Linked DNA regions of Homo sapiens: region 1 is linked to region 2. Evidence: fine-mapped expression QTL. Tissue or cell type: lymphoblastoid cells. Region 2 holds a variant in brackets; the other region holds the start of a gene. All regions are shown on one strand. Distances are between the middles of the regions.

What was found. PIP is the estimated chance that this variant, and not a neighbour inherited with it, causes the effect.
Region 1: KLRB1 starts here. The variant in region 2 is fine-mapped to the expression of KLRB1 in lymphoblastoid cells (TwinsUK, PIP 0.91).

Annotation. Positions count from the first base shown.
Region 1 is chr12:9,606,747-9,609,379 of GRCh38, reverse strand. It overlaps KLRB1 (killer cell lectin like receptor B1), which reads left to right and starts at 1,464. Exons shown (of 6, transcript NM_002258.3): 1 at 1,464-1,625. The coding sequence starts at 1,541.
Region 2 is chr12:9,459,618-9,462,385 of GRCh38, reverse strand. It overlaps the pseudogene OVOS1P. Among named protein-coding and RNA genes, the nearest start is that of LINC02367, 94 kb to the right of the region's middle. The variant C/T (reference allele first, on the strand shown) is at 1,229.

The DNA of each region.
Region 1 (2,633 bases), 150 kb before region 2:
AACATTTATGCAGGCAACAGACACATGAAAAAATGCTCATCATCACTGGCCATCAGAGAAATGCAAATCTAAACCACAATGAGATACCATCTCACACCAGTTAGAATGACAGTCATTAAAAAGTCAGGAAAAAACAGGTGCTGGAGAGGATGTGGAGAAATAGGAACACTTTTACACTGTTGGTGGGACTCTAAACTAGTTCAACCATTGTGGAAGACAGTGTGGCGATTCCTCGAGGGACTAGAACTAGAATTTGACCCAGCCATCTCATTACTGGGTATATACCCAAAGGATTATAAATCACGCTGCTATAAAGACACATGCACACATATGTTTATTGTGGCACTATTCACAATAGCAAAGACTCGTGAACCATCCCAAATGTCTATCAATGATAGACTGGATTAAGAATATATGGCACATATGCACCATGGAATAGTATGCAGCCATAAAAAAGGATGAGTTCATGTCCTTTGTAGGGACATGGATGAAGCTGGAAACCATCATTCTGAGCAAACTATTGCAAGGACAGAAAACCAAACACCGCATGTTCTCACTCATAGGTTGGAATTGAACAATGAGAATATTTGGACACAGGGAGGGGAACACCACACACCGGGGCCTGTCGTGGGGTGGGGGGAGGGGGGAGGGATAGCATTAGGAGATATACCTAATGTAAATGACAAGTTAACGGGTGCAGCACACCAACATGGCACATGTATACATATGTAACAAACCTGTACATTGTGAACTTAAAGTATAATAATAATAAAAAAAGGTAAAAAAAAAAAAGTAGACACATACTATAATCACCTTGAAAAAAAAAGAAAGTCTTTCAAAGAGATAAAAAATTCCATATACTCCACTTCCTACAATTCTGGCAGTTTCCAAATACTTTTACTTATGTGAAAATGCTATCATATCCAAGAGTGCCTTTAGAGCTAAGCTAACAGTAGGCTACTGATCTTTAGCACATTGCTTTTTCTGTTGTGTTATTCAGGGGGCTTTCTCACATTTATGTTTCCATTTTTCACATTTCACAACTTTCTTTGGAGCACAGATATTTCAGGAAGATTTTAGAGCCTTTGAATAGCATTATGGACTTTTTTGCATTAATTTTTACTTTTACAAAATTGTGCTAAATATTATTTCTGTTAATTAGTGAGTTTTGTTGGGGGCCCCTTAAATTGGAACCCCAGGCTATGCCTCATTTGCTTCACTCTGGTCCTGGCCCTGAGAGAGGAACACAAAAGGGATGGTTAGAAAAACAAGAACAAATGAGCCTCCCAGAATTTTCTCAAACAACAGGCCAGTTAATTAAGGAAAGTAGATATTACATAGCTAGGTATAATGAACATGCAGTCAGTGGATTGTCTCAGTAATTTATGGAGATAACCACCAACAAAAAGTGTATGTGGGTGGGGACAAAAGAGAGACAACAAAGTACTGCAGGCAGAAAGCTTCCTTTTGCTGATTTTGCCTCACAGAATTGAGAGTTTGTTCTTACACACAAGTTTAATGCCACCTTCCTCTGTCTGCCATGGACCAACAAGCAATATATGCTGAGTTAAACTTACCCACAGACTCAGGCCCAGAAAGTTCTTCACCTTCATCTCTTCCTCGGGGTAAGTGGCTTTAATTTTCCTTTCGGCATTTGTATGTCTTCCAGAATTAGATCTTCCTGTTACATTTATGGCTTTAAATCATTGCTTTAAAGATGAGCAGTAGTTTTATATTAATGTTTAACGGGTGTTGCATGGCTTGCCTGTAGATAATCACAACTTTGGGAAAAAAAATTTAAACCTCATACATTTATTTTTTTCAATCAAGTTAGCATGAAAAGCAAACATCACTTGTCTTACTGAGCCTTGGTTAAAAGACTCTGAACACTTTAGGCTACCCTGGGCACACTGCCTATTGGTTACCCCTGCTCTACAGGGATGGAAAGAAGGAAGAAAGAAAGAAAGAAAGAAAAGAAAGAAAGAAAGAAAGAAAGAAAGAAAGAAAGAAAGAAAGAAAGAAAGGAAGAAAGAAAGAAAGAAAGGAAAGAAAGAGAAAGAAAAGAAGAAAGAAAGAAAGGAGAGAAAGAAAAAGAAAGAGAGAGAAAGGAAAGGAAAGAAAGAAAAAGAGAAGGAGGAAGGAAGGAAGGATGGAAGGAAGGAAGGAAAAATATTTTACATGTATGAACTAAGGAATATTTAAGACACATTGCAAACTTGCTGTAATAACAACCTACGTTATTCCAAATTCCTCTACAAAATATCAATACTATGATTAAGTCCCAGTGCATTTTCATCCATAATATTCCTTTCAGAATACAACGTGTAGGCCAGTTGCAGTGGCTCATGCCTGTAATCCCAACACTTTGGTAGGCTAAGGTGATTTGCTTGAGTCCAGGAGTTTAAGGCCAGCCTGGGCAATGTGGCAAAACCTCATCTCTACAAACAATACAAAAAAATAGCCAAGTGTGGGGCACGTGCCTGTGGTCCTAGCTACTCGGGAGGCTGAGGTGAGAGGATTGCTTGAGCCCAAGAGATCAAGGCTGCAGTGAGCTGTAATTGTGCCACTGTACTCCAGCCTGGGTGACACAGCAAGACTATCTCAAAAAAAAAAAAAAAATATATATATATATA
Region 2 (2,768 bases):
AATTGATGGCGGCAGCAGGTCAGGGCTAACTCACTCACATTACCAGAGGTTAGCGGCAAATGCTCCGTGGCACTGGCTACTCATGGCAGAAGGGAACTGCAGAGACAGCCCCAAAGTCTGCCAAAGAGAGGCTGCCAAAACTCTTTCTACTTCAGGGAAACTTCCTCCTTTCCCCCATTCAGTACTGACTGCCTACCTTTGCTTTTAGTTGGTGAGAGGAAACTAGCTTTATTTTTTTTATTTTTATTTTTTTTGAGATGGAGTCTCGCTCTGTCGCCCAGGCTGGTGTGCAGTGGCGCAATCTCGGCTCACTGCAAGCTCTGCCTCCTGGGTTCATCCCATTCTCCTGCCTCAGCATCCTAGGAGTAGCTGGGACTACAGGCGCCCGCCACCATGCCCGGCTAATTTTTGTATTTTTAGTAGAGATGGGGTTTCACCTTGTTAGCCAGGATGGTCTCCATCTCCTGACCTCGTGATCCGCCCGCCTTGGCCTCCCAAAGTGCTGGGAAACTAGCTTTTTGGATGAGCTGATGAGCTGTACAACCAGGTAAGTCTACTGGGGTGCAAAGTAGTAGTCCACTTTCTTTACCATTTGGGCCTTTGGACCATTTGTGGTACCACTGGTAGAAGAAATGACTCATAGTGACTCCATACCAGTCTCTTCCTTTGTGAAAGCCTGGGTTGGAAAAGTGCTTCATTTGTTTTGGTTGTGTTTTGTTTGTGTCCACCATGGGAAGTTTTTTTCATCAATCCCCTCTCAGAGCCCGCTGTGGTTCATATTGGCTGACTGGTAAGCCTACAGTGATAACCCTACGACAAAAAAGATAATCTACTGCAATAAGGTGTGGCCAATGTACGTGATACATGAGGAAGATAGGTGGCCATTACATGGTTCTTTGAATTTACAGCTTGAACATTTCAATCTGAGATCAGGAAATTGGGACTGCATACCTTATATTCAAGCTTCTATGTTGGTACATAATAAGCATGCTTCCCAGAAAGGTTGCTGGCTGACGGTGCAAACAGGACCATATCAGGTAAAATCTCCTCACTCTCCATTACCTGAGGAGGAAGAGAAGGAGATAGGATAATCTTATCAACTATAAACCCTCCACAGGCAAATGATGCTGAGGCTTTGCAGGTGCCTGTCCCATTGCAGCCTGCTCTGGTGCCTGTGCAAGTTCCCATGGAGGCCCCAGCTGCAGTACCAGCACAGTACCCTGAGTTG[C/T]CCCATCTCTGCCCCCTCCACCAGAGGATTATCCAGATAATACAGACTTACAGGGTGTGGTGGCCCCTCCTCATTTTAAAGGTAGCCAAGAAATAGGCTCCCCTTTTAAGACCTGACAAGGCAACTAAATTTGACCAGAGCGTACACCCTCATGTGGCAGAACAATTTCTGTTATGCAAATTCCCCGCTGGAGGATTAAACGCACAGGGCCATACTCCTGGGCTATTTTGGTTATTCACCATTTTCTATCTTTGACTAAGTAAATTGAAAAATATTCAAGTCCATCCTATAGGGATGATCCATAGGAGATGACTGAAATATTCACCAGTATTTTTTCTACTCATCATTCCACAATAGCAGGTGTACAAGCATTATTAAATTTTATGATGAAAGGGGGTTATTTTTAGACAAGACTAATGATGGAGCCAGAAGGCTATACCAGCAAGACCCTGCTGGGTCCTCCAACACCCCAGAGGCAATTTCCTTAGTGAAACTCAAGTGAAACCTTAATAATGAGGTTATATCTTGACTGTAGGATTACTCCTAAGAAAGGGAGTACCTAAGCAGCAAAGCCTCAATAAAAAACATCCATGACCTCTGGTAGGAGGCCAATGAAAACCCAGCCGCTTGGTTGGAACAAGTGTATCAGGCTTACAGAAAATATTCAGATATTGATCCAGAGGCTCTGGAACATGTTTGGGTCATAAATATAACTTTCATCAGCCAAAGTGCTTCTGACATTAACAGAAAATTAGAAAAGCAGGAAGGGACTGTTGGAATGAACCCTTCCCAGTTTACAGATATTGCTTACAAAGACTTCAATGCTAGAGAAACAAGAAAAGCTAGACAGGCAACCATTTTTGTGGAGACTATTCAAAAAGGTGGAAGAATGAGGGGTGAAATAGAAAGGAATCCCTAGACAAGGACCAGTGTGCCTACAGTGGGGAAATCTGGACATGAGAAGTATGCCCCCCAAACCTACAGAGAAAAGATGGTAATAAAAAAGACAAGGGAGAGGAAAAGGGAAATATACGCCAAAGAAGGAGATGGTGGAGCAGGATTGTGACTCTGATGAAGACTGATTGGGCACAGGGACTCCGCCTGATTTAACAGAGCAACAATAATTTCCCTACAGGAGCCCTGGGTACAAGCGACAGTGGGGAACAAAATGACTGGCTTATTGGTTGATACTGTCGCAATGTTTCCAGCCAAGGCTGGAGTCACTGGGAAGTTACAACAGAGACTCTTTCTTAAGCCCTAAGAATGTAAATTGAGGGATATAAGATTGAGGTATAGCTTTCTGTATATGCCACATTGCCCTATTCCATTGTTGGGCCAAGATTTGTTATGTAAATTAAATGCCCACGTCACTTTTGCTCCTGAGAAACAACATCTAAGAATCCAGGTATCACCCAAACATGTCCTATGCCTACAGGCACTGGTGATTCAGCCAGAGAAAAGAACTCAAGAACCATTCCTGCTGGAAGTCTACAACAGAGGGAGTAGCACTGTTTGGGAAGACAGGGAACCTGAACTAGCA